7 separate regions of the Homo sapiens genome follow, and regions 1, 2, 3, 4, 6 and 7 are each reported to be linked to region 5. Evidence: microRNA targets listed by miRTarBase, many of them from high-throughput screens and not tested one by one. Region 5 holds a microRNA gene; each other region holds the end of a gene's coding sequence.
The links. The annotated mature microRNA hsa-miR-500b-3p reads GCACCCAGGCAAGGAUUCUG and lies in region 5 at 2,113-2,132, opposite strand. An mRNA with a match to its seed (bases 2 to 7 or 8) in the 3' UTR can be bound and repressed. Matches are read on the target gene's strand: a 7mer-m8 pairs with bases 2 to 8, a 7mer-A1 pairs with bases 2 to 7 and ends in A, and an 8mer does both.

Region 1 (4,061 bases), not on the chromosome of region 5:
TTGGAGAGATTTTTCTCTATGTGCATCGTGATGACTTCAGTTAAAGACCAAACACCTGTGCTCATGTCCCACTACGTGTTGAATACGAAGTTGAACTGATGTTAAAACTCGCCATCTGTTCTTCAAGTGAAACAAACACAACTGCCTGCAAAATGGAACTAATGGAATTATCATACTTATTCCCAGGAGCTGAGGACAGGGACTGGCGGCAACAGCGGAATATTCCGATTCATTCCTGCCCCAAGTGTGGAGAGGTTCTGCCTGACATAGACACGTTACAGATTCACGTGATGGATTGCATCATTTAAGTGTTGATGTATCACCTCCCCAAAACTGTTGGTAAATGTCAGATTTTTTCCTCCAAGAGTTGTGCTTTTGTGTTATTTGTTTTCACTCAAATATTTTGCCTCATTATTCTTGTTTTAAAAGAAAGAAAACAGGCCGGGCACAGTGGCTCATGCCTGTAATCCCAGCACTTTGGGAGGTCGAGGTGGGTGGATCACTTGGGGTCAGGGTTTGAGACCAGCCTGGCCAACATGGCGGAACCCTGTCTCTACCAAAATTACAAAAATTAGCCGAGCATGGTGGCGCATGCCTGTAGTCGCAGCTACTCGCGAGGTTGAGGCAGGAGAATTGCTTGAACCCAGGAAGTGGCAGTTGCAGTGAGCCGAGACGACACCACTGCACTCCAGCCTGGGTGACAGAGGGAGACTCTGTCTCGAAAGAAAGAAAGAAAAAAAGGAAGGAAGGAGAAGGAAGGAAGGAGAAGAAAAGGTACCTGTTCTACGTAGAACACCTTTGGTGGAGTTCCATCAACTCGCAAAGTAGAATCCTTACCTACTACTCTTCTGATAATAATTTTAATATTTTTTATGTTTGGTTGATGCGAGCAGCTGCACTGCTCATGCAGTTAGCTAGCATGTGACATCATGTGACAAAGTTCATGTAATTAGATGGAAGAAACCTCACTGATTAATTTTAAGAACCTTTTAGGGATGCAGGAACAATGAAGTGGCCACAGTATGTGCTGTTTTTGAAGCATTTTTAAAAACGAATTGTAGTTGTTTTTCTTCATTTAAAATGGATCTGTTGGAGGTTATGTGTGTATGTTGTAGTTTTATTGCAGCCACAATAATTTTACCAAAGTTTTCACATAGGCAGTTAGCCTTTACTTAATATCAAGACAAGTGAAAAAATATTGGCATCGATGAAACCGATAACATTGGCCTCATTGGATTTCTTTACCCATTCACAGTGTAAAGAAGTTACCTTCATGCTTTCATTGTACCTGCAGGCCTGTGGGCTTGTACAGTAGATAATTAATTTCTAAAAAGAACAGCTGCCTATTTTCTTCCTAGGTTAGGTTATATCTTCATAATCACAAGAATTAGTGATGGCAAAATAAAATTTTGCTTATGAATCTTTTACATTGTTTATATATGATTAATATCATCATATATATTTTCTGTATTAAGCTCATTTGGCTTCATTTAAGCTGTATACTTAGTCATATATCTTTCATTAGTTCTATGGATATGAGCAGATCCCTTTACTGGAGCCCAGTATGTGCTGTGTGAGTTAGAAGTCATTCTTGCTGAGAAGGTGAATAGGTAGGGATTTGCCTTGTTTTGTAAGTCTACAATTTGCCAAGAGTAAATAACACTGGACCAGCTGTAAAAGTAAACAGTGTGTTTATGCATTGAGATACTAAAGCATTTAAGAAAAAATTAAAAGATCTCTTTTGTTTAAATTTGTCTTAAGAATCTCTCCTAGACAAACTTGACTATACACACACACACTTCAATAAGAATCAAAATAGTTCATTATATCTTCATGCCAAGAGAACACATGATACAAATTCAACAGTAATTTCAATTAAACGAGTCCCCTACCACACCTCAGGGAGAATATTTGTTAAAGACATTTCTAAAGTAACTCTGACATTTTTACTTTTCTTTGTTATGGTTTCTAATGTAAATTTTTTCCCTTATCATCTTATACTGGAGGAAATATATTTCTATAGTCTCCTAAACAGAGAAGGAAACCAAATGGTTTCACATTTAAAGTTATTGGACATAATCCTTTTACTTTGTTCAAGTAAAAATATTCAGCAAAGCCAGACTGAAATAATAACATGAATGGGCTTATTAAGCTTGTGACCAAATCGTTTGTTTAATAGTTGGAAGAATTACAAATGAAGGCCATTTCACGTAGTCAGTTTAAATTAAGGCTGTTGTTTCCAGCTTGGTAAATAGCTTATAAACTCTGTGCACATCTTACCTCATTTATTTATTCTAATATCCCTTCAAAGGCTCTGTTCCATGTGACCAGTTAACTATACCTCCTAGGAATTTTGTGTCTGTAAAAATACATAGTTGAAGATTGCACTCTTAACAGGTTTACGACTATCCTGGATAGTATTGTTAACTGTGTGCACATTGTTGTAGAGCAGATCTCTAGAACTTTTTCATCCTGCGTGAATGAAACTCTACACCCATTCAACTGCAGCCCCCATTCTCCCCTCCCCAGTCCCCGGCAACCACCACTCTCCTTTCTGCTTCTGAGTTTCACATACCTCCTATAAGTGGGATTACATAGTATTTTTCCTTCTGTAACTGGCTTATTTCATTTAACATACCTCCCTCATTCAAACCATAACTTCCTGGATGAAGGTTTCAGGCAAAAGCACCTGGGAAACCAGGCCTTTGCTACTCATTTACCCCCCATTCCCCACCCCACCCCCCGCCCCAGTCCCGTGCCTCCACCTGCTGAGCACCGTTCCATTTGCCGATGCTCTCATGTTACCCTGGGAGACATAAGGTAGAAGAGCCATGGGGACTCTGCTCGAGGGTGGTATAAGGCATTTGAAACTAAGCCTCTTCATTAACCCAATCCATATCACAGAGAGGCAGCATGGGTGCCCCTAGCCCAATGGCCGGGCTATTTGCTACTGCAATAATAGGTTTCTTATAAACCGTCAGCCTCCTGAGTAGCTGGCACCACAGGGACACCACAGGCTATTTTTTAAAAAAATTTATGTAGAAATGGATTCTCACTGTGTTTCTCAGGCTAGTCTCAAATTTCTAGGCTCAAGCAGTCCTCCCGCCTCAGCCTCCCAAAGTGCTAGGATTATTGGTGTGAGAGGAATCCCTTTCAACCCTTGAAAATAAATCAAGCGGTGATGAACTCCCTGAGCTTATATTTGCCTAGGAAGGTCTTTATTTCTCTTTCATTTTTGAAGGACAGTTTGGCTGGACATAGTATGTCTTATTTGGCAGTTTGTCCCCTTCTGCACTGTGAATATATTATGTCAGTCCCTTCTGGCCATCTGGCAAGGTTTCTGCTATGAAATCCACTGTTTTATGAAGGATCTCTTGTTCATGACAAGTTGCTTTTTGATTTTAAAATGACTCAATGTGGATGTCTTTGGGTTCATTCTAGTTGGAGTCCTTTGGAATTCTCGAATCTGGATGTCTATTTTCTACCCCAGATTTGGGAAATTTTGAGCCATTATTTTTTTTAAAGAAGCTTTCTGTCCCTTTTTGTATTTCTTCTTAAATTCCCATAGTGTTTATATTGGTCCACTTAATGGTGTCCCAGAAGTTCCTTAGACTTTCATCATTTTAAAATTATTTTCCCTTTTTGATCCACTGACTGGATAATTTCAAATAACCTCTGAGTTCATTCTTTCTTCTGCTTTATCAAATCTGCTGTTGAACCCCTCTAATAAATTTTTCAATTTATTTTATTCTTCACTGCCAACATTTCTGTTTGGTTCTTTTTTATACTCTCTCTGTTGATATTCTCATTTTGTTCATACATCGTTTTCCTGAGCTCACTGAACATCTTTTGAATTTTTTTTCAGGTAAGTCATATACCTCTAGTTCTTGGGGTCAGTCTCTAGAGATTTCATTTGCCTCTTTGGGCCATATTTTCATATGTTTCTTCATGTGTCTTGTGATTTTGTGTCGGGATCCATGTATTTGAAAAACAACTCTGTCTTCCAGTCTTTAAGGACTGGCTTCATACAGGGAAAGATCTTTTCCAATCATCTTGGCTAG
Region 2 (4,067 bases), not on the chromosome of region 5:
AATCCTGCTTACCCCCCAGCAACCACCGTCTCCCTCTATGGCTCAGTGTTCACTGGTGCCCAGCCAGATGTGTGCCCATAAAATGCCCCTTCTAGGTAACCCCATCTCAGATGTAAGAGCAGATTGGAGTGGCTTTAAGCAGGAGAGGAGCCCTGCTGCCCCCTTCCCAAGGGATTCATTCATTCATTCTTCAAAGAAGCATTAGAGCCCAGTGGAGAATTCAGACGCTGGAATCAAATTGCTGGGCTGGAATCCTGGCTCTGGGACCTGGGCAGCCGACATCATCACCTCTCTGGGCCTCAGTTTCCACATCTGTGACATGAGAATAATAACAGTGCCCACCTCAGAGGGCTGCAAGTCTCAATGAGTTAATGATGCCAAGTACTGAGAGCAGGGCCTGGCACATAACAGGGGCTCATTAATTGGAAGCCATTATTATCATTGAGCCAAGGGACTGTGGAAGGGGGGTGGGGTGGAAGCTATCAGGGAAGGCTCCCAGGAGGAAGGGACATCTAGGCCAGAAGCTAAAGGATAAGGGGAAAGTTAGCAAGGCAGCAGGGGGTTGGGAGGGGTGGAAAGGTGTCATAGGCAGAAGGAACAGCAGCTGTAAAAGCTCAGAGGTGAGGAAGAGGTGAACTGCTCTGTTGCTCGGAACACCTCCTTCATTCATCCCCCACCAGTCTTGGGGGTCACAGGCTATGGCTGAGGTCATGGACTCCATGTCCTCTGGAGGGTCCCGCTGAGCATTAGTGGAAGACTGCAGACTGGAGCCGCTGATCAGGGAGCTCACCCCCGTCTGCACCCCCAGGGTCTCTAATGATTGCTTCTGTTTTACTAGATTTTTATGTATTCAAGGGAAGCTTCATGCACTTCCCAGTCACGTCACAACAACTAACACCCCGCAGGAGCTTGGGAACAAGAAGAAAGCACAGCCCGTGACACCCAGCGAAGTTGAATGATTTGGTCGATTTGGTCAGAGCCACGCAGCACACACAGGTATTACTCTTCCACCCTCCTGCTGTTCTTGGCAGGCCTGGCTGGGCTGAGAAAGGGAGGGCCCTTCCCCACTGAGTGAGACAGAGGCTATTGTGTGTTATGAAACCCAAAACTCTGGGGCCCCCTCCGGCTGGAGGTGGGGTCGGTGGAGGGGAGGGGCTGCAGGGGATGGCCCACTGCCCCCCAGCCCCAGGGACCCAGCACATGCTCCCAGCCCCAGCCACATCTGGATTCCAGCTGGCAGCTCCTGAGGCCCAGGGTGCGGGGGAGAAGTCGCTGCAGGAACTTGCCATCAAAGACCAAGAGGAGTTTTGTGGGTGGGGAGACAGAAGGCAGAGGCCGACTGCAGGGCCAGGGCTGCCTCCTACTCCCGATCCCGGCCAAGGGTGCAGTGAGGGGGGCATTGTCCATGAGACCCGTCCCAGTCCTCAACCACCTGCAGGGGAAACAGAGAGGTGAGTGACTCTCCCATGGCCACAGTGGCAGAGCTGGGCATGGAACCTGGGTCTGCGTGGCCACAAGTCCAGAGCTGGTGCTCCACCCCTGGGGACATGAGTTCCAGCCCATTCCTCGGGAGCACCGGTCTTTCCTTTGTTTCCCACATCAATCTGTCCCTTCACCCTCCAGGACTGGGCTGATGTGTCTCCCCAGAAAGTTGTCCCCATCCCCATGCAAGAGCCCCTCCCCAGCAGGCTCATTTCCCCCACCCCCCAGAAAACTGGTGAGACTTCAGGCCGGAATAAAGGTTTATTGTGCTGGTGCATTATATCTCAGCACCTGGAGAGCTGTGCAGAGGTTGGGGGAGCCCCAGATGGAGGGATGGGGGAGAGGACCTCCTGCCAGAGCCTCCCTAAAGCAGGACGGAGCCCAGGCTCCCTGTCGAGGACTGACGAATATTGTGGACACAGGCTGCCAGACAATGTGTGAGCAACAGGGGGTGGCCAGGGCCCCCCTGCTCCAGGCTGGGCGTCAGAAACCCTTCCCCAGCCCCTCGGACTTCCCCAGGGTGGAGGTCCCCTCAAACACAGCCCCTCAGCTTCTAGGCTGCTTTGGAGGCCAGACAGGAAGAGTTCCATTCATTCAACCTGATCCCAGCAGCAGTAGCGGGATGAGAAACTCACCCCCAGGCCGGGGGTGCTTGGAGAGCGCTTGAGAGGATTTAAATGCCCTATACCCCACATCCCTAATCCTGGACCAACTAGAAACAGGGGGCCACCTTCAGGAAAATTAAGAGCAGTATTTTCCAGAGTGGGTGCTGCAGGATTTTACCCTGTAGCTGTTTTAAAAAGTAGTTTGGGCCGGGCACGGTGGCTCACGCCTGTAATCCCAGCACTTTGGGAGGCAGAGGCAGGTGGATCACCTGAAGGTCAGGAGTTCCAGACCAGCCTGGCCAACATGGTGAAGCCCCATCTCTACTAAAAATACAAAATTTAGCTGGGCGCAGTGGTGGGCACCTGTAATCCCAGCTACTGAGGCGGGAGAATCGCTTGAACCTGGGAGGCGGATTGCACTGAGCCAAGATTGCACCAAGATTGCACCACTGCACTCCAGCCTGGGTGACAGACCGAGACTCCGTCTCAAAAAAAAAAATCTTGTTTCCGTAGAGTGCCTCGGGGAACCTAGTTTGGGAAATGCTCATTTAGGGACCTGTCGTAATGTGTGCAGGGGTCCTCTCACAGAAGTGTCCTAATTAACCACACACACTTCTGCTGCTGGAGCTCTGAGCACAGGCAGAATGACACTAAAATATTCAGCATTGAAAGGACACAAGAAGGGAACCATTTGCAGTTTCAAAATACTGCTTCACGCCAGGCTGCATGTTGCCTTACGAACGCTGGGCACCTTGGCGTCTCTCATCCAAACTCTTCCAAAACTCCCACTTATTCTTTGCTCCCTTGATGGAAAAGCAGTGATGTTTGCCCCACAAATGACCTGTGACATATGATTCCCAATTAATGTGGCTGATTTAGTGGACTGTTTTTTGTTTTTATAGAGATGGGTCTCACAATGTTGCCAGGGCTGGTTTGGAACTCCTGGTCTCAAGTGATGTCCGCACTTGGCCTCCCAAAATGCTGAGATTACAGGTGTGAGCCTCCACACCCAGCCTTGAGGGATGTTTTATCCTGGCTGTCACAGGGACACGTGCCCTCCCTCACTTTGTCAGGGGAGCTGTGCTGTAGGATGTAGCCCTTTGGGGCTGCTGAGGTGAAGGATGATGGCACTTGGTAAGATTCCTCCGGGGCACCGGGGACCAGCATTTCTGCCTGCTGTAGAATCAGCACATGCTGGGATTGGCACCACAGGGAGGCCAAGGAGGGAGTGTCAGGAAGCAGTCAGGGCTGAAGGCCTTTTCATACACGGGGAGGTGACCACTTGGGGGCCCGACAGTCAGGGCTGGCAGCCCGGGAGGACTGTTAGACACTGGGGTGGACACTGCTGCAAGCACAGGGGCTTTCGGGGGGACCCACTGGTCCCTGGGCTTCCTGGGCTAACAAGAGAGACCCTTCCAGCTCCCCTTGGCCCTCACCGGCCACCACAGCCCCCTCAAGGACCCCTGAGCACGGCTCCTCCTGCGCCTCTGGTGTCTCCACTGGGACCCCATGTCCCTGGACTTCCTGGTCCCCCTCCTGGCTGCCCTTCTCCTCTTCCTCTGCGCCCCTGCCCTCCACCATCCTGGCTCCGTCCCCACCGCCCAGTGCAGCCCTGGTGGGGGACTTGAGGTTCTGGGTGGCGGCCAAGATGTCGGCCTGGAGCTGCCGGGAGGAATCCAGGGCTTCCTCGGGCCTGCTGTCGGGGGCTCTGTCGGGGACCTCACTGAAGGCCCGGGGGCCCCCGGCCCGGTCACTCTGGTCCACGTACTTCTTCTTGGGGAAGGACGATGGGTAATAGGCCGAGGCCTTCTGCTTCTGCCGGGTGATGACCGCGGCACAGACGATGAACATCAGCAGAAAGGCCAGGGAGCCCACCACAGCAATCAGCATCACGTACTGGCGGAAGAAGTCCACTATCCCATCCAGGAAGTTGGTGGGGGGTGATGGGCCCCCCAGGGTTATGGGCTGGGGCCCCATCGA
Region 3 (4,058 bases), not on the chromosome of region 5:
CCACCTTTTCAAAAGCCTCTTACAAGTCCCAGCCGGCTCTCTAGAGATCATGCCACTCTAAATGGAGCACTGCAATTTGCCACCAAACAGCTAAGCCGAACATTGAGTAGAGCCACTCCCATACCTGAATACCTAAAACAGATCCCTAATTCATGTGTTTCTGGGTGTTGCTGTGGCTGGCTGACTAAAACAGTTAAGGAAACAACTCGTACTGAACCCATCAACACTACTTATTCTTACACTGACTTCCAAAAGGCAGTTAACAAACTCCTAACTGCATCACTGTAAAGATCTACCATTTGCTCTGATATCTCTGATGTTGCTAATTGAGAAAGTGGTACAAAGTTAGTCATTACACAGCCCACTAATGCCTTCTCAGTCAAACTCTCTTATGCCCTGGCAAGCCAATGAGGATACCCTTTGACAAACCCTGTGGATAAAATGATAATATCAAGGTCAGGCATGGTGGCTCACACCTGTAATCCCAGCACTTTGGGAGGCTGAGGCGGGTGGATCTGCTGAAGTCAGAAGTTTGAGACCAGCCTTGCCAACACAGTGAAACCCTGTCTCTACTAAAAATAAAAAAATTAGCCGGGCGCAGCAGTGCACGCCTGTAATCCCTGCTACTCGGGAGGCTGAAACAGGAGAATCACTTGAACCCAGGAGACGGAGGTTGCGGTGAGTTGAGATTATGCCACTGTACTCCAGCCTGGGTGACAGAGCGAGACTCAGTCTCAAAAAAAAAAAAGGAGAATTAGTTAAGGGGACCATATTACAAAAGATAGTTGAATATTCTTCACACTCACTTCTCACCCTCCCCACCCCAATTTACTCTGCCTTTCTGAATGGCTTTAATGAGATACCTGATTATTAATGAAGAAAAGTAGACCACCACCCCTTTTGTTATCCAGACTTTAGAACAGCCATTGTTGAAAGCAAGAAGTTAGCTACCCACAATAATACCTTTCTGAGCATACTCTTCTCTAACATACATTTCTGTGGAAGTAGTTGAATTAAATTGAGTAACTACACAAAGGAAAATGGCAGGGCTATGAATTTCTTTCCCAGCTTTTATATAGATGTGCCTACATATGACACTCTTTAGGGTTCCTTTTATTTTTTCTTTTTTTTTTTTTTTGAGGTAGTTGAATTAAACTGGGTAACTACACAAAGGAAAATGGCAGGGATATGAATTTCTTTCCCAGCTTTTATATAGATGTGCCTGCATATGACACTCTTTAGAGTTCCTTTCACTTTTTCTTTTTTTTGGAAGGGGGCGGGGAGGCAGGAGGAGTGCAGTTTTAAGCCTAGCCTATACTACTACAAACTTATTATGGTACTTAAAATTACAGCATGAACGTTCTATATCGGAGTCTCCCACCAGGCTGTCTCTGACTAAATCAGCCTATAAGATCATCCCTTGGGATTAAACAAACACCTGTTCTGTAGGGAATGTGTTTCCTGAATCTTGGTACTCAGACTTTTGTCAAGAGTAAATAACATTTCAAAAGATGAATGGAAAAATGATTAAGAGAGCATTTCTGCTTTCAGCATTAACTGCTAATGGATTAAAATTTTAATCTGTATAGCATTTCCTGGAGTAAAAGCTCAAGTACTTTCCACATCCATTGCAAACTTTTCAGGAACCCTTCTAATTTTTTTTTTTTTTTTTTTTTTGAGACGGAGTCTTGCTCTGTCGCCCAGGCTGGAGTGTAGTGGCATGATCTCAGCTCACTGCAAGCTCTGCCTCCCGGGTTCGTGCCATTCTCCTGCCCTGCCTCCCGAATAGCTGGGACTACAGGCGTCCACCACCACTCCTGGCTATTTTTTTGTATTTTTAGTAGAGACAGGGTTTCACCGTGTTAGCCAGGATGGTCTTGATCTCCTGACCTCGTGATCCACCTGCCTCGGCCTCCCAAAGTGCTGGGATTGAACCCTTCTAATTTTAAAGAACCTTGTTATTAGAAAATCTCAGCCTAATACAATCTGAAGTTAAGAGTTTTAGCAGCATTGTTTTTCTAAGTAGATTTAGCTATAGATTTTCTTCTGGCCAAACAAGGAAGAGTATATGCCCTTGTAAATGAGTCTTGTTTTGTTTATTTAAATAGTCAGTCAAAACGTAGAAATCAGTATACGTAAAATAAAATGCATGAGACTATTAAATCTTTTCATATACTCTACAAATAAAATGAAATCTGTGTGTGGTCCTGGTTGACTGGGCATCTAAAGGGAATCAGAAAAGAGATTGTGAAAAGTTATATATATATCCTCTTCCTTATTTTAGTTTTGCTTTTTCCTATTTTCCATAATTAAGTGCCGTTTACAAAGTGGCATCAAAAAATTGAAGCAGGCCAGGCATGGTGGCTCATGCCTGTAATCCCAACAGTTTGGGAGGCTGAGGGCAGGTGGATCACTTGAGATCAGGAGTTCGTGACCAGCCTGGCCAACATGGTGAAAGCCCATCTCTACTAAAAATATAAAAATTAGCCGGGCGTGGTGGCATGTGCCTGTAATCGCAGCTACTTGGGAGGCTAAGACAGGAGAATTGCTTGAACCTGGGAGGTGGAGGTTGCAATGAGCTGAGATCGCGCCACTGCACTCCAGCCTGGGCAACAGTGAGACACCGTCTCAAAAAAAAAAAAGGTTAGGAATCACAAATTGTGTAAATATATAGCAACTTTAAGAAGAGAGAAGAATGCTTATAACCTAGTGAATATTTCTGCTGAGCCTTAGTTGTCTTGTCTAAAGGAAAAAAGAGGGAATTGTAGAATAAAAGTATTTGTTAGTGGAAATTATTGACCTGAAACCATATCATATTGTTAGTGTAACTGAATGTATCAGAAATTGTTCCTATGTAGGTATTCTGTGAAACTGGTTTCTAAAATGTTACAGGAAACTGTTTCCTTTTTTTTTGTTTGTTTGTTTAAGTGGAGGTGGGAGGAGGTAGGGAAGAGGTCTGAATATTAAAATATGTTTATGTTCATGTGTTCATAATACGTTCCTTTTTCTCTCTGTGTGTGTATAAAAGTGCCTTGCTCATGAATGCATTTTTGCTATTCACTTCGAAAGGAAGCCTTTCCCCAGCTTGGCAGCTGAATAAACCAATAGCTTTGTACATGCTGAACAGAGTATGGTCATTTGTCCTCAACAAATGAAATAGATCCTACTTTGCTTAAGGCATATTCTACATTCACTAAGTACTGAATAGAGTTAATAGATACAGTACCTGAATCTATATAGTATGTCTGACAGGAGATGACTTGGCGTCTCTAGAGAAGAAACACACTTGAAGAAGAAAATGTCTGATATTCAGTCAAGATTCAAAGTGAGCTTATTTGTTTATGTATTTTAAGTAATTCCAGGTTGCACAAAATAACAGGTACCTAAATAAGCCTTAAGTTAACTTTTTGTGTGGCATAAACACTGGGTTTGGGAATGAATTTACTACCTTTGCACTCCCTATGTTGGCTTCTGTTAAATGCAGTCACCATAATTAAGATAAAAAGATTATTTTATCCTCTATTTATAGAAATATTTATCAAAGGAGTAAGGAAACTATTTCTAAACCAGTGGACATTAACTGTCTTTTACTTTCTCAGTGCAGATAGGCAACTTTTTTTTTTTTTTTTTTTTTGAGATGGAGTTTCGCTCTTGTTGCCCAGGCTGGAGTGCAATGGCGCAATCTCGGCTCACTGCAACCTCCACCTCCCGGGTTCAAGCAATTCTGCCTCAGCCTCCCGAGTAGCTGGAATTACAGGCATGTGCCACCACGCCCAGCTAATTTTGTATTTTTAGTAGAGATGGGGTTTCTCAATTGGTCAGGCTGGTCTCTAACTCCTGACTTCAGGTGATCCACCCACCTCAGCCTCCCAAAGTGCTGGGATTACAGGCATGAGCCACCGTGCCCAGCCATAGGCAACATTTTTATTAAAACAGTCCAGATACCTTGAGCCTCAAAGACCATAATCACGTCTTTTAATCCCATCTGCTTCCTAAGAAAAGAAAAAAATCCATACATGCATGGCAGGAGGGCATATGATAGGTCCCCTCTAGGGGAT
Region 4 (4,067 bases), not on the chromosome of region 5:
AATTAAATCAACACAGTAAGTGCCTCCAAGGTGACAGGGCAAGCTGGGGAGGAGTCATCTGAGCCAAGTCATATTTGTAGGCTGAGCTTGCAGGGAGGGCATTCCAGGCAGAAGCCATTGCTAGTGCCAAGCATAAGCAGGCACCAGGAAGTGAGGGTGGAGGTGACCAGGCCAGTGAGTGCATGGCCTTGCCCATGGTCTCTGATGCCCCTGCCTGTCTTCCTGCAGACTACTCTGCCCTCCCAGGGCCCACTGCAGAGACCCAGCCGGCTGGTGTTTACCGATGTGGCCAATGCCATCCATGCGTGAGTGGCCTGGGACAAGCCTGGACTTCTGATAGAGACCCATCACGGTGCCTACAGAGCTCCCCACTCCCTGATTGTCAAGACCTACTCTGAAGATCTTCCCTGCCAAGACACAAGAGGGCTGAGCCAGGTCCTAGCTGTTCTCCAGACCCACCTGCTGACTTTAGACTCTAAGAGAGGGCCCTAGCCAGGCTGGACTTCTGACCACTGACTTCTCCTGACCTGAGGGCCCTGGCACAGAGGGCATCCCTCATGCTGAGAAGGTCAAGAGCCTCTGCTGGCTTCCTCATCCCCTGTCCAGATCCCTCACATCAGGGTCTGCCCCGCTAATGTGGAGGAAATGAGGGAGATACGGAGTGGGAGGGATTGGGGGAGGAAAGGGGAGGTTTCCCTCTGTTAGGGAGAGACCTGTTTTTTGGAATCTGGAGCCTCCTCTGGGGTGGGGAGAGGAAACCACCCAAGTTATAGGGACAGGGTAGGGCAGCATCTGTTATGGGCCCTGAGAAGCCCAGAGATGGAGCTGAAACTGTCCAGTATGCAAGGATGCCAGGAGAAGGGCAATTCACACCCAGGGTCCATCCATACTACGGAGGGTCCAGGAGGTCTCCCAGCCACCCATCCTTGGCAACCAGATGTTACTGGGGCCAAGCTAGGATGGGAGCTGAGGGGGAAGGAAGTAGGGGAATGGAAGTGGAAGGATGCAGCCCCCCCAGACCTGCCGAGAGGCCTCATGCATGTGCATGAGTGTGCCCATGGGCAGACATGTGCCTGTCCCAGCACAGCGGGCAGAATGAGATTGTCCACACTGGCCCCACCCTCCAAGTCGACCTCTACCCCATGGTATGTAGTGGAGCATCAGGGTAGGCTATCTTCTCTGCCTTCAATCTTCAGGGACTGCAGGGAAGAGGGAAGCACGCACAGCACGGTTCCTCTCTCCACTGCATTGTTTCACTGGGCTCACCTGCTTCTGAAAACGGCTCCCTGTCTTGGGCTCTAATGAGGATCTGGGGTTGGGAGAGGCTGTTGGTCTGAGGGCAGTAATCACAGGCTGCAGGCTAGAGGGGGCAGTTATGACTGCCTGAAAGTGGGTGAGGGATTGCACTTCAGAAAAACATCTAAAAAACTTAGTCTATGTTTGAATTCCCCACCTCCATCCCATCTATGGGAAGAGCCGTTCAGTGTTTAGAGAGTGGGGAGATGGGTCCCTGCACTTGGCCTCTCCATAAGCCTTGGAGGGTCAGGGCTGATACCAGGGGTCCTGGCAAGCCATTGGGCAGAGACAGACCACAAGAGCAGGGCATTTTTTTACGCTGGGCATACATATGCACACAAGCATGCACAGAGGCATGTCCCGTGCCCAGCCTCTCCACCGTCACTGTCCGCTGCTGGCTGGAGGGGATGCAGGGGTAGTGTATGCAGACCTTCCACTGGGCAAATGCCATGTGTCAGGAGGGAAAGGCCTAGGAAGCCCCCATGGGGAAGGTTCTGGATTTATTCCCTCCTCTAAATGCTATAAATACGTTAGCACTTGAGTCGACTGGAGGCTGCCAGGAATTCAGGATGCATACAGCTGTAATTTAACCCAGAGCAGCTCCACGTGAGAGCATTAAAGATGTAATGAAGATGTTTACATGGAGAGTGTGTGAGCCTGTGACGCTTGGGGTGTGGAACCCTAGGAGGGGCAGGATGGGTGAGGGGCTGTGGGGGGCCTGGGGATAGTTGCTTGGATCACAGCTATGAGGTGGCACCCCAGGTTTCTCTTGAGCCGTCTGAGGAAATGCCTCTGGCCCTGACTTCGAGGTTGCCCTGGGGCTTCATTTCCCAACTGTGGATTGGGGTCCCAAGGCCTGTCACCCCCTAGGGTGGAAAGGTCAACTGGACAGGACCTTGTGAGACCGGAGGAGGAAGGGGGCTTGAGCCCCAAGGGCCCCGACGGGGGTATGGCACCTCGGGACCCAAAGGAGCTGGGTCTGAAACATGAAAGGAAGCAAAATAGTGTGGCTTTTTCTGGAGCACAGGGGTGCAGGGGAAGGGTGGGGGGTGGGAAGCCATTAGGGTCATCTGTGTGGAATCCACCCGCAGGGTTCAGAAGGGTTTGGGGGAGAATGACACTAGGGTGACCAGCCATCCTGGTTTTCCCAGGACTATTCCAGTTTTAGCCCTGAAAGTCCCACAAAACCAGGACTCTAAGTGACATCTAGGCTCTCCCCAGAGAGCTGAGCCTTCAGGCCAGCGTCATGGAAATAAGGGGCGGGCGAGCCCCCACTCCCCCAGTTCCACGATGGAGGGCTGAGCTAGAGGAAGGGGCTGGGGGACAGGGCCTTAGGTGAGGGGAGGGCCACGTGCCCATGAGCCAACGACACTGGGGTCACAGCTCAGCCTGTCAGTGATGGCCTTGATCTTTGGAAGAGGTCTCCTCCCCTCAGCAGATTGGCAGGATCTGGAGGGGCATGGAGTGAGAGGAAAGGCGGTGGTGGGCTGTGTCCTCCCACCCTGTTGGGTGGGCCTTCAGCCCAGGGATGTGGGAGCTTCAGAAGATCCAGCGTCTGGGGGATCCTGAAGAAAAGGGGCCTGTGGAATAAGGCTGGCTCCCAGGGACCAGGACCTGGATGGGGGCTCCAGGAGAACCCCAGTGCCCATCCGCTCCTGCTGCCTGCCCCATGCCCCTCTCCTGCGGGGTGGGCTTGGCTAGACGATGTGCACAGGGCAGCTGTCTCTGTGGGTGCCAGGGCACATGTTCACACCTCTTGTGCCCTCACAGGCACCTTCTCCCCCTTCCACCCACCTTCTGCCCTCTAGCTCTTATTCCCAGTCCTGCAGGAAAACCAAGTTCCCAGCAAGTTCCCAGGTCTTCCAGAGTGTGGGGTCAATAAATATTGGGGTGAAAGGTTCTGGTTGGTGTGTCCTCCTTGAGGCCTTGAGGCTGGTGTGGTCACCACCCTCAGCCAGGCAGTGGAATGAGATGGAGTCACCTGCCTGCCTCACTACTCCTGGAATTGACTATTAAATGGAGCCCTTTGAGAAATGCCCCCTGCCCGACAACACACACACACACACACACACACACACACACACACACACACACACACACACACACACACACACTTCCATAAGTAAAACCCTTCCTTGGGAGTAGCAACCAGGGCTTGGGCTCAGAAGCTGGGCAGTTTGCGGTAGGTGGTATCTGGGTGGATGCGGCTCGGCGCCTTCAGAGGCCATCTTCTTGTTTAATAAAGAGAAATGTCACCTTCGAGCCAAAGTGAATGAAATAATCCCATTGCCTGGCTCCAGGCAGACACTGGGGACGCCTACAGAATGTAAAGGAAAGTTCTTGCGGGGGAGGGCCCAGAAACTCCAGTAGAGCAGCTTGACCTTGCTGTGGATTCCTTCCAGAAACATTGCTAAGCGTCTATCATGAGCCTGGCACCACGGTCCTGAGGGTGAACCAACCTAGACTCTGCATTTCCATTTTAGATGGAGGAGACAGATATCAAATAGGAAAAAAGATGTGTGTGTATGTGTGTGTACACACATAACACACATTGTTTAGGTCTATATATCTCTATATCTACATCTGTAGGAAAAAGAAGGTGGGGTGGGGGCAGGGTGTGCCTAGGGATTTTATAGGCTGAGGGCAGACACCCCACCCCATCCTGCCCAGCTGCACCCCTCAGCAGGCCTCAGTGTGGAGAGCCATGGTCAATGATATCTGGGGGAACCCTAGGAGATGCTGTTTTGACATCCCCACACACCTTGTCCTCT
Region 5 (4,067 bases):
TCTCAAACTTAAGTGAGCATCAGAATCAGTTGAGAGCCTTGGTAAAGTACAGATTTCCATGGTTTATGGTGTAGTAGGTCAGGGATGAGCCCAAGAATTGGCATTTTGAACAAGCTCCTAGGTGATACAGATGCTGCTGGCCCAGGGACCACACTGAGAACCACTGCTCTATACATAACTTAAAGAAATGAAATAATGGGACATAGAGGGGTGATGCAAAGACTCTACACTTTTAAACATGGATGAGATTCCCTCTCTGAATTTTTGTACAAGGCAATGGACTGGAATAGCATTTGTACCCAACTACGAAGAATGAAAGAGAGGGACAACCTGAATAGAAGGCTCGAGCATCTTCAAATCCATTGTGTTTGTGTGTATGTACAAAAGAAACAGCACTCTCTGGCTCACAGGTGATTTTCCTATGACCATACAAAGGTGAAGTGTCTTTTCTTCATATGCATGTGTGAGATGACTGACAAGTAGGGCCACTTTCCTTCAAGCTCTGGTGGCATAAGCAGCAAGTAGAAAGCCTATTGCCTTGCACACCAGACATGAGTGAGAAGATGCTGCTAATGACACTCATTATCCTATGCACACTGTGGCTGCAGCTCTGTGTAAGGGGAGACACACCTTTTGTAGTTCTCTAGCTGAGCACTGTTGGGGGGTTGGAGAGGGGATGATGGGAAGACTCACTCTCTGCTACATACGTATGCATGAACAATGTGGGCAACGGAAGTTCCTTCTCTTAAACATGCTCACTAGGCATGTGAGTATGAGTTCTGTGTCTTTCTTGACCACCCTGTCTCTCCATGTCTGGTGCATGACAGGAGCGCCACCCCTGCTTGTTAAAGGTGGGAATGAATGAAGGATGGGGATTATAAACAGGTGTTCTTCGCTCTATGCAGAAAAGGCTCAGCCGTGGAATGCTTGCCTGGGTGCACCGCATTGACACAGCACTTGCATCCAGGTACCAGGATTCAAGAGGGGGAACAGGACTGAAGGCCCAAGCAGCCATACAGAGTATGTGTGTGTGCACGTGTGCGTGTGTGCACATGTGCTCACATGGGTTTACAGGGAAGGCTCACCGCATATAGTGTGTTCATCTGTGACTGTACAGAAAAGTAATGAAAGGATCTCTCCTATACAGAGCAGCAAGAAGGAAAGTAGCAGTAAGAAGACTTCCCTCATTTAATCCCCATCTATAAGGGAGTTAAGGAAGCTCACTGGCTTGCACGCTGAGAATGGGAGAGAGGAGAGCACAACAGGCTCCATCTCCTACCCTTTCAGTAGGTGGGGTTCTCTGCATGCAGGGCCATGTCTCTGAGTGTGTCTGGTGTACAAGGATTGGGGACATTTGAGAATTTCACTTGAGCAGAACCTGCACATGCTTGTGCATGCAGACTGGGTAACAAGGAACATATAGATCTACTTCATTCTTTTGAACAGTGGCCTATTCATCCACAACATTTATGTATAGTGTGTTTATGAGTCCCTACCAGAATGTAGGGTAGCAACCTGTCCATTTTGATCCCTGCTATATCCTTGGTGATGAACATAATACCTGCTGTCTAATAGACACTTGAGTATCTGTGGAAGGAAGAGGAGGGAGAGTTGATGTGCAAAAGCTCTGTCCTTTTAAGTGTAGACAAGGCTTCTTCCCTTGGAATTCTTGAAAAGGGACAGTGAGTCAAGGCAGTACTGGCACACAGGCTGAAAGAATGTGAGTGATGCACCAGGTCAGAGGGACCACTCTGTGAGGACATGTCTCTGTGGATGTAACCAAGTCAGGCCCTTTCTCTTGCACACAGCGTATTTATGTGTGATTGTACTGAGGTTTAGTAGATTCTCCAACATGTATCTGTACCCCACCCACCCTGTACCCCACCCACCCTCAGGACATGCAGATATAATGAATGAGAAGGAGTCCATTCTCCTCCCTGAACTGTACACTCCATGAAGGTAGGGAACCAGATATGGCTCATTCTCTTGTGGGCCAACTGCCCAGGACAGCACCTGCAATAGAGTAGGTAGGTACTCAACAAATAGTCATAGAAAGGATGGAAGGAGGAGGTAGAAGTGCTCTGTCCTATGCGAAGATGTCACTCCCCCTTGCAGAATCCTTGCCTGGGTGCACTGCATTCAGAAAGCACTCTCACCCAGGTAGCAAGGATTAGAGAGGGGGAACCAGGACAGGAGATTCCAGTACCTGTACACCTCACATGTGCATCTAACAAGAAGGCTTGCTGTTCTTGCCTAGTGCATTAACCTTGCATTGAACTAAAGTAGAGAGAAGTTGCTTCGACAAGTATCAGGCTGGGTGCAGTGGCTCACACCTATAATCCCAACACTTTGGGAGGCTAAGGCTGGTGGACTGCTTGAGCCTAGGAGTTTGAGACCAGCTTGGGCAACATAGTGAGACCCCATCTCTACAAAAAATAAACACAAATTAGCCAGGCATGGTGGCACAAGCCTGTGGTCCCAGCTATTTGAGAGGCTGAGGTGGGAGGATCGCTTGAGCCCAGGTGGTTGAGGCTGCAGTGAACTGTGATGGTGCCAGTGCACTCCAGCCTGAGCAACAGAGCAATACTCCATCAAAAAAGAAAGAAAAGAAAAGAGAGAAGAAAAGAAAGGAAAGGAAAGGAAGGAAAGAAAGAAAAGAAAGAGAAAGAAAAAGAAAAGAAGGAAGGAAGGAAAGAAGGAAAAAACAAGAAACAAGTATCAATGTGACAGCAGGAATGAGAAGACTCACACTTATGGGTGGGTTAAGGTGGGAAGAGGGTAGATAAGAAGTTCCTATGTGGCCCACTCACCCTCAGTATATGCAGGGGCAATGAGTGGTGACAAAGTCCATTCTCCTCTCAGGCTATAATATCCAGGAAGGCAGGGGCGAAGTCTGCCTTGTTCATTTCTCTGTGTCCAATGCCCATCATGGTGCCCAATACATATTATTTGTGGAAGGAAAGAATGAATGAGGGTCAGAGAGCAGGCAGGCAAGCAGCAAGCAGCTGAGAGGTGACATACAGATCTTCTGTTCTCCACGCAGAGGGGGCTCACCCTCTCAGAATCCTTGCCCGGGTGCATTGCATTCAGAAAGCACTCTCACCCAGGGACAAAGGATTAGAGAGGAAGAGCAGAGCAGAAGACTCAGGCACCTGCACCCTGCATGTATATCTCCATATATATTTGACTTTCATGGTCCCATTCCTGCAAAGTATCTCTGTGTGCATTTGCTAAGACAGATGCCTCTCCTCAGGGATAGCATATGTATTCATCCCCCTGCACAAGGCCACATGGACATGCCCTCTCAGACAAAACCTCAGACTAGAATGAAAGATATGAGTGGCATCTTTTTCAGATCACACTTGAGGGTCTGCAGGTGCTGGATGTATTTGGGGCCTAGCAAGGAGGTTGGGACAAACTGTATGTGGGCACACATGTACATGCACATGTTGGAAGATGGTACAGAAAATTGGGATACTTCATTCTCTTCTGTTTCTCTGGTAAACTATAAGCTCACTGAGAGCAAAGACTGGCTGTGCAAGTCTCATCACCCAATGTGTGTTTCCCCATTACAGTATCTGACACATAGTAAGCTGGGAGTAAACAGAAAGCTCATGCTCTCAAAGAGGTGTAAGCTTGTCCAGGGCAATGATGAAGTTCATTCTCCCACAGGTGCCCTCTACAGAGCCCAGGGACCTTAGCTGTCTTATTTACCGTTGTATCTCCACCACCCAGTGCAGGATCTGGCACCGCATAGCAAACACAAACATGTGAAAGAAGGGGACAGGTTGTTGGTCCTTCTACATGTAGACAAGGCTCAGCCTCTTTGAATCCTTGAATAGGTGTGTTGCACTGAAATAGCACTCACACCTAGGTTCCAAGGATTCAAGAGGGGGAGCAGACAAGAAGGCTCTGACACCTGCCCTTTTTGTGTGTTTGTATGTGTGCATGTGTAGCTATAACCAAGTCTCACTCTCATGTATATACAGTGTCATTTACTAGGGACTTTACAGAAAGGCAGAGAATCTTTTCTCCTGCAGAGTTCCATGTGAGATCAGAGAAGATTC
Region 6 (4,067 bases), not on the chromosome of region 5:
TTAAATGGCATTTAATATGAAATGACCCTGAATGTTTATTTTACAGATGTTTTTGCCCTTGCTTCTGCAATTAAAGAGATGTGTGTGGCTACTCGGAAAACACGCACTGCCCTGTGGTGTGCACTGCAGATGACCTTGCCAAAAACAGCCAGTACAGCTGATGTGGTAAAGCCTTTACAAGATACAGTAAACTGTGAAGATAAAGTCCATGAAAGCATAAATAGTAGCAATCCAATGAACCAGAGAGGTGAAACAAACAAACATTAAGGAAATGCCAGCAGAAAGAAGAATAAAAAGCTGATAAATATACCAAGACATGCTAAAAATGTTTTAATGAACTTGTCAAACTTTCAGTATGTTTTCTTTCAGATTTAAAGTTAATACCAGTACCTTAATGAAGTCTAACTTCTATTTAAAAATCTTCTATTTGAAGTGAATCCGATATAGTTTTAAGTAAACGCAAAGGTACAGTTGACTACTCAGAGTTCTGAGTAGTCAGATAACAAGTTTAAGTAAATTAAATATTTCCTAACAGCTAAAATGTGCTTAAACTCATTCTGCCATGCAGGTAAATGCAAATGTGAAATTCTTCTAGGAGATAAATTTCATTTAGGTTTGTCTTAGTTAAGTATAATTCCAAATAATGAATCTAAGTGACTGTAACCCAATTACGGCTACAGCCTAGTAACCAAGACAAGTTTTGATTGTGATATCAAAGTGTTTTCCTTACAAAACTGGATAATACCTGGGAAACAAAGGAAAATACGGATAAACCCAATATTCATGTACAAACTTAATATTTAAAATACTATACTACCATATTTATAAATTTGGAATCTTAATGCCTAGGTATATGGAGGGAAATGCATCTGATTCTCCTAAATTAATGATAAAAGTGTCAGTGTAAAAACCATGCAAGTTACTGAATATAAAACCTATTCAGATCATTTGTGTATATTCTTTAAATTTTAATTATATTATCAATTGTTAAATGTTTCCAATTTTAAAGTTATTTAAATTGAATCACAAAACATTCCCTTTATCTGGATCTTTTAGACTTGATGCACAGTAACTGAAATAATGACTACTGTTTTAATACCCTTAGTTTGCTGCCTTTTATGAGGGTGTCACGAAGTTCTAAAATGTATTTTTTTAAAGGTTAATCTCTAACTAGTTTAGCTTGCAATTGGTTAGTGTATATTTTGTGTAGTTGTGTTCATTAGTTTGCTTCTAAGTTCTAAAATGTATTTTTTAAAGGTTAATCTCTAACTAGTTTAGCTTGCAATTGGTTAGCCTATATTTTGCGTAGTTGTGTTCATTAGTTTGCTTCTGTATTTTTTTAAAACTATTGAAAGCTTAACTTTTTCTGTTTCTCATCACTTAGTATCTTTGTATAGAACTTGAGTAATTTATTCGTTAATATGAAATGTTGGTATTATGTGACTCAGAAGATCTTGGGTTTTAACATTTCTAGCATGAGTTAAACTATAATGTACTGATGAAATTTAATTGAAATATCCTTGACTAGAAACACTGATGTTTTAAATGTTAGTGTTTTTCTTAGTTTTAGAAATTCTGGTATTAAAAAAAAAAAGAGTGTAATCATACCACATAAATTTTCTTTAGATGATGTGCAGAAGAAACTGATTGAGAATGCAAGAGTAACTGTAGGGAGAAACATTTTGATCACTGATATGCCTTAGAACTACCCAAATGAATTACATTGAGGGTAGTCAAATAAAATAGATCATCTCACCACAGTCACTGCATAGAAAGTGGTTAAGTTTAACATAAGACATGTTGGATGTTATAAAAACAAATACTGTACTGAATTTAGTCTCAGGAAAAAAATAAATTACTTTGTTGAAAACATTTGGTTTCATTTTTCTAAATTCATATGTTTCTAACCTTAAGAGTCACTCATATCAGAAAGTCAAATGAATTTCATTTAAGAACTTATACTAAGTTTTAGATTTCATTATTAACGCACAAGTAATAATGTTGGTTTATAAATCAATGCCATTCAGATATCCATGGATCTAACCAGATCTCCTTCAAAGATGAAATTTTTGCTCTATCTTTATGCTAATCCGTGTAAACCAGAATAAAAATTTTAGGGAAGCTTTTACATGATACTGGTCAGAAATGAAATACCAGTCCGTTAATAAGAACCAAACACTTAAAAAAATTCTTTGAAATATTGTTAATCATATCACCCAATAGATAATTTTTAAATTAGTCGGTTGTCCCTTTCAGTGGCATATCCTCTAACAGATGGTTCTTATGTACTTGTATTTCTGAATTACAACCTATAAAACATTGTACTTCTGAATTACAACCTATGAAAACATTATAAAACTTTTACAAAATTTGCAGTGAAACTGATAAAACTGATGCTCCCGCCATTTCTAATCTGAAAGAACTTGGTGTACTCATTCTTTTTAATGGAAAAAGCAAAATTACCTTGAGTTGTTATCAGTGTCCTTCTCACTTGAATAATCTGCTACTATAAAGTTTTAGAGGGTTGAGAATTTATGACTGAAATCCAAAATCTGGCCTAAAACTCAATCTTACCATAGAAGATATGGTTGTTTAAAATTTGCCCTTTGCAGCTGGGTGCCGGTGGATCACGCCTGTAATCCCAGCACTTTGGGAGGCTGAGGCGGGTGGATCACGAGGTCAGGAGATCGAGACCATCCTGGCTAACACGGTGAAACCCCATCTCTACTAAAAATACAAAAAATTAGCTGGGTGTGGTGGCACTCGCCTGTAGTCTCAGCTACTTGGGAGGGGGAGGCAGGAGAATCACTTGAACCCGCAAGGTGGAGGTTGCAGTGAGCCAACATGGCGCCACTGCACTCCAGCCTGGGTGACAGAGTGATCCGTTTCAAAAAACAAACAAAAAAAATATGCCCTTTGCAATACTGAACATTTTAGACGTAAAGGATTTATTAGCACCTGAGTCAAGTGGATAACTAAACTCAAAGCCTAATGAGCTGATCCTCTATTTTCTGTTTAAGCATTAGTTTGAGAGTATACTTAACTGTGACATACATAGCAGAGTCCCAGAAGAAAGAACTGACTACTAACAAATTGAAACAAGTACCCTTCAGGGGACCGTGGATATAACCTGACTCCTTCAGTGACAAAAATCAAGGTGAGAACAACCCAAAATCCCAAAATAAGGATTACTAAATTAAAATAGGCTCTATCATACCCTATCGCTACCACCACATAAAGGACTAAGACTGTAATAGTAAGGACCTCTAAGCCAATTTCCTGATGTTCCAAAAAACATGCTAATCTTTCTGATCTAATTCCTACTTCACAAAAAGGAAAATTGAGAAAGAGGATTTATGGATTCCAGGAAGAGCTTCCACTAGTGGAATATAAGTTATAGGGCTAATCAAAACAAAGCATAAAATAAAAATCAACACATTCCTAAGTAACTACTCACACATATTTCATTTCCATGGGTACGTAGAAGCAATCAAAATAAGTCAGAAGACAGCAATTTAAATAAGATTTATTTTTTTAAAGGTGGTTATTTTTATTTTTTGCAATGCCACAGTTATAGGAGTGTATGAAGAGGTAACATGTCTCCTTTTCCTTAACCATGTTTTTTTTTTTTTAACCTTCTGCACAAAGGTAAAAGTTTTTGTTAATCTCATAGTTAATGGTATAAAACAGAGATTGGCAAACCTTTCCTCCAACAGGCCAGGTAGTAAATATTTTAGATTTCACAGACCACATATTTTTTTCTTTTATAACTCTTTAAAAATGTAAAAATCATTTTTAGTTTGCACCATACAAAAACAGACTGGGCCAAATTCGGCCCGTGGGCAGTAGTTTGCCAACCCCTGGTATAAAATATCTACTTTGTCTTGTCAGAGAAATTGCTGTCCTTAGGCTTCTAGACAATCTGCTGCCTGAAGTCAAGTGGAGAAGGGCCTTATTTACAATTTAATGTGGTTTGTGACAGAAGTAGAAATGGAGAGCTTCTGCTCACTTTTGACTCTCCCAGTTTTTCCATTCACTCATTCATTCAATAAATTTGTTGAGCACCT
Region 7 (4,067 bases), not on the chromosome of region 5:
CTCTGCAGCACTGGCAGGTATAAGAAGCTTTTGTTACATTTATTCATCCATTCATTCAACAGTGAGCACCTACTATGTGCCAAACATGTTTCTAACACTGGGAGTACAGCAAGAACCAGTTAGACCAAAATTCCGGCTTTCATGGAGCTTGCAGTCCAGCAGGAGAGGTCGTGGGTGGGAAAGACAAGTACAAGGCTCAGCCTGCTGGGTCATGATTAGTGATCAGAGAAAAATAAGGCAGCGAAGGACAAAAGGGAATGAGGTGGGGTGGGGTACAAATTTAAATATGGTGTTCAGCAAAGGCTTCACTGAGGAGAAGATATTTGAATAAAGCCCCTAAGGAGGTGAGGGAGTGGGCCTTGCAGATACTGAGGGGAAGTACCTTCCAGGCAGAAGAAGCAGCACGTCTGAAGTCCCTTGGATGTGAGCGTGCCCAGTAAGGTTGAGGAATGGTCAAGAGGCACGTGTGGCTGGGGTGAGTGAGCAAGGGGTAAGGGGTGAGAGATGAGGTCAGAGAAGCACAGGGTCCCAATTGCTTAGTGCCTTGTAGGCCACTGTGAGGGATGAACCCTGGTTTGGGGGTACCTGAAGCTTATGCAGTCCAGTGGGGCATCCTCAAGATAGATAAACCAATTCAGGGCCTTGGAAGGGGCTTGTGCTAGTGAGAGGCCCGGACACTTAAGCTTTGCCAGTCTTGCTATAAATCTGCCACTGGTTGTGGTGAGAATTTTGGCTTTTGCCTGGAGAGGGAGCCATAGGAGAGTTTTGAGCAGAGGAGTGGCCTGACCTGACCAGCCTCTGGCCTTCCTCTGGCTGCTGAGTGGAGCATGAACCTGGTGATGGGGCGGGGAGGAGGGGAGGAGAAGGGGGTAAGAGAGAAAGCCAGAACACCAGTGAGCAACCCTGGACTGGCGGTGACAGCCGAGGGTGGACAGCAATCAGATTCTGAAAGTGGAGCTGACAAGATGCGCTGATCTGGAATGTGAGGTGTGATAGAAGAAAGGCAGAAGGGTTGACCACAGCGTTTGAGGCCTAATCCAGCTATCCCCAGTTGAGGTGGGGAAGGAGAGCATCATCATCCCTGGACCTCATACTATGCAGTTCTCCATTTTATCTGTAATCTGCACCACCACCCTGAGGCAGAGCTTTCATTAATCCCACTTCACAGATAGAGAAATCCCGACTCAGAGAGGTGGAGTAACTTGCCCAAGGTCACACAGCCAGTAAGTGGCAGAGCCTGGATTCCAACTTTAGTCTTACCAACTCCAAAATCGGTATCTGTTCTGATGCACCAGGAAAAGCAAGGTTTGGGGCCCTAGGAGCAGGTTAGGTGGGAGAGGCAGTTCCTGGAGGAGAGGCACATTCCAGTAACCACAGAGGCCCCTGGAATGCCTGCAAAGAAAGTTCTCAGCATCCTACTCCGTGTTCCTAATCACCTCCTCCTTAAACCTGTTTCTGATCCATCAGCTGGCAGATCTCAGCTGTAATCATGGGGAAATGCTTTTGTCATCTCTTAAGTTTTCTTAATTCACTGACAAGGTAATAACGCCTCAGTCCATTATACACATTTTCTAAAGGACTTTCAACATTAGAATGCAAAGCAGGCTTCTCTGGCTTAGAAAAACCTGAGACTCCTGGGATTTAATCATCAAACAGATTTAGCCCCTAAATCTGTTTGATGATTAACATCAAACATTTCGTAAGAAAAAAACAAATGGTAGTGCGGCCAGCATGTCCAGGCCACCCAAATATGCCCAATTTCTCCCCTAAATAAACTCATTGCATTTAAACTGATATGAACTGATGGTCCCAGATGCATTCACTCAACAGGTTTAGTATCCAAATGAGTCTGCCACCATCACAGTAATCCATATGACTTGGTTGATATTTTTTTAATTATCATTATGGATTGAAAAGCCTTAGCCCATGATTTGGGATGTCCAATCCTATGTAGTTTACTTAGAACAGCTCATGCCACGTTCTGTGGCTGTGCCTACTTGGAGCCTGGGAGAAAGCGACACAACAGTGGAAGCCTAGGACTTGTGAATCTTTTACCATCTTGGAGCTTTGCTCTTTCCACACCATACCCCTTCAATACCACAACAAAAACCTGGGAAGCCAAGCTAAACAACCCTTGTCCTTTCCAGTCTTCCTCTAGCTCTCTGCTCTTGGTAAAACCTACCAGTAGGAGCAGATATTTGATCTGTCATAGAAGCTGTGATATTACACTCCCCAGATGTTTAACTCACTGGACTGAAGGCTCAAGTTACAGCTAATCAGGGCCTCTCTACACTACAGACCCCATGCCCCCCCACCCTCCCACCCCCAAGGAACAGGATCCTCGGCCCATGTGGCCAACTGAGATGGAGTAAGTAGGACCTACATTGGGCAGGGGATTCACTAAAATGGCTCCTGTAGGGTCTCTACACCAGTGGCTTAGAAGGCATGTGCTCTCAAAGCCCTCTGGGTCCATTCAGACTGAAGGATGCCTCCCCACAGTCCTCAAACACCTGTATCTCCTTGCCCCAGGGCCTACTTCCTTTCCTTACCAAGAGTTTAAAGAAAGTCTGCAGGAACCTAGAAACATTTCATAAGAAAAACACAAATGGCAATGTGGCCAGCGTGTCCAGGCCACCCAAATGTGCCTGATTTCTCCCCCAAATAAACTGTGGCTTCACTTTACTACTATATGAGGGAGACTAAGGTTACAAATTCAGCATAAATTTTTTTTTTTCCTGTTATCCAAATAAGGTCAGGAGCAAGAGACATACTATGGAGGAGAAGGTGATCAAGGCCTGCATCATGCCCACAGAAATACAATAAAGCCCTCACCCTTTCCTGTGTAAAAGATCCTTCTTGCCCAGAGAACTGGGTAATATTGTGCACTTGGCTTTGTAAAAATGTGTCACTGCAGGAAATTAGACCCCAAGACCAAAACCAGGCTGTAGCAAACTTTGAACTGAACCCAACCCCACCAGGGAGCTCTTCCCTGAGACCATGAGAGCTGCTGGCTGTGGTGGTCCCTGAGGTCAGGCCAGAAAATGGCAGGGAGAATGGTTAGTGCCTGGTGGATGCCTTCCTGCCCTGGAGGGGTGACTGGAGATAGAGACTGGGTTCCCATTCCCAGGGAAGAACTAGAGGGACCTGAGGGGTCATCCAGTCCAACCCCCTCACTTGAAGGCAGGGCAACTGAGGCCTGGTGAGGGTAGGATCACAGTTTAGTCAGTGGGGGTACTGGGGGTCACTCTGGTGCTGACTTCTCCCCTCATCATGAAGCCACCTCCCCCACCTTAGATGATCAGGGCTGAAAGGGACCCCTCCACGGCCAATCAACACCCTCACTCAGCCAATAAGGACAGCAGAGGTCCCTCACTCCCCAAGGCATGAGGGAAGAGGATGGGCAACCTTTCAAACAGCTCCCAATCTTGAGAAATGCCAAGAAACCTCATCCTCCAAGAGCAGCGGTTTCCAAACTTTTGTATTTTTAGCAGCAGAAGCCATCCTCCAAACAAAACCGTATGCAAAACCTCAGCTACAAAACAGATCAGTGGGCTGCTTGCCCGTGTGGGGCATGGGCTGGGCCCCGAGCTCTCCCTCCAGCACCCAGTACTTCTTCCACAAGGCCCTATGTGAGCTCAGTTTAAAACCCCAGGGCCTTGGCAGGGGTCAGGTGGGCGGGAGCAGGGGGTGGACCTTGTAGCACTGGAGCTAAAGCAGCCAGATAAGGTGGGCTAGTTCTTAAGACCTCTGGAGGGTGTGGCTAGTCTCTGAGACCTGGACAACTTCATTCTCCACCAGGGCCTGGCCCCCATCCCCATTGAGCTGTCTCATGCGCAGGTTAATGGAGCCGTAGGTCTTCCTGGAGCCCTTGCCGGGGACGAAGGTCCTCCGGCGGTACAGCTCGCCCTTGCACAGGGAGACCATGAGCAGCACCGACAAGAGCATGCCGCCCACCGTGAGCAGCCCGAGGCCTGCGATGATGCACCTGTCCAGGTGGGAGCCTAGGCGGGCGTAGTACATCTCCAGTCGTTCCATCTCCCGCGCTGTCACTGTGTCCGGATTGACTC

Region 1: miRTarBase lists OPTN as a target of hsa-miR-500b-3p. Seed matches in the 3' UTR shown: 8mer at 694-701.
Region 2: miRTarBase lists TMEM119 as a target of hsa-miR-500b-3p. Seed matches in the 3' UTR shown: 7mer-m8 at 3,094-3,100.
Region 3: miRTarBase lists DCAF16 as a target of hsa-miR-500b-3p. Seed matches in the 3' UTR shown: 8mer at 710-717.
Region 4: miRTarBase lists C3orf18 as a target of hsa-miR-500b-3p. Seed matches in the 3' UTR shown: 7mer-A1 at 1,391-1,397.
Region 6: the mRNA of MEIOC is a reported target of hsa-miR-500b-3p. The part of its 3' UTR that is shown has no 7-base or 8-base seed match.
Region 7: the mRNA of TMEM74B is a reported target of hsa-miR-500b-3p. Seed matches in the 3' UTR shown: 7mer-m8 at 3,601-3,607.

What each region holds. Positions count from the first base shown.
Region 1 is chr10:13,136,559-13,140,619 of GRCh38, forward strand. It overlaps OPTN (optineurin), which reads left to right. Exons shown (of 15, transcript NM_001008212.2): 15 at 187-1,750. The coding sequence ends at 308. Among named protein-coding and RNA genes, the nearest start is that of MCM10, 23 kb to the right of the region's middle.
Region 2 is chr12:108,588,122-108,592,188 of GRCh38, forward strand. TMEM119 (transmembrane protein 119) reads right to left here. Exons shown (of 2, transcript NM_181724.3): 2 at 1,730-4,067. The coding sequence ends at 3,411. Among named protein-coding and RNA genes, the nearest start is that of TMEM119, 7.9 kb to the right of the region's middle. RefSeq lists an enhancer at 657-1,385.
Region 3 is chr4:17,799,721-17,803,778 of GRCh38, reverse strand. It overlaps DCAF16 (DDB1 and CUL4 associated factor 16), which reads left to right. Exons shown (of 3, transcript NM_017741.4): 3 at 1-3,124. The coding sequence ends at 288. Among named protein-coding and RNA genes, the nearest start is that of DCAF16, 9.0 kb to the left of the region's middle.
Region 4 is chr3:50,555,899-50,559,965 of GRCh38, reverse strand. It overlaps C3orf18 (chromosome 3 open reading frame 18), which reads left to right. Exons shown (of 6, transcript NM_016210.5): 6 at 229-1,941. The coding sequence ends at 309. Among named protein-coding and RNA genes, the nearest start is that of C3orf18, 9.8 kb to the left of the region's middle.
Region 5 is chrX:50,008,787-50,012,853 of GRCh38, reverse strand. It overlaps MIR500B (microRNA 500b), which reads right to left and starts at 2,182; the gene lies at 2,104-2,182. All of the region lies in intron 3 of CLCN5 (chloride voltage-gated channel 5), which reads right to left. It overlaps MIR362 (microRNA 362), which reads right to left and starts at 3,890; the gene lies at 3,826-3,890. MIR501 (microRNA 501) reads right to left here and starts at 3,132; the gene lies at 3,049-3,132.
Region 6 is chr17:44,673,930-44,677,996 of GRCh38, forward strand. It overlaps MEIOC (meiosis specific with coiled-coil domain), which reads left to right. Exons shown (of 8, transcript NM_001145080.3): 8 at 47-1,872. The coding sequence ends at 267. It overlaps CCDC43 (coiled-coil domain containing 43), which reads right to left. Exons shown (of 5, transcript NM_144609.3): 5 at 3,511-4,067. Among named protein-coding and RNA genes, the nearest start is that of CCDC43, 14 kb to the right of the region's middle.
Region 7 is chr20:1,177,110-1,181,176 of GRCh38, forward strand. TMEM74B (transmembrane protein 74B) reads right to left here. Exons shown (of 3, transcript NM_001304748.2): 3 at 3,461-4,067. The coding sequence ends at 3,739. LOC124904855 (a long non-coding RNA gene) reads left to right here. Exons shown (of 2, transcript XR_007067486.1): 2 at 1-2,843. Among named protein-coding and RNA genes, the nearest start is that of TMEM74B, 5.8 kb to the right of the region's middle.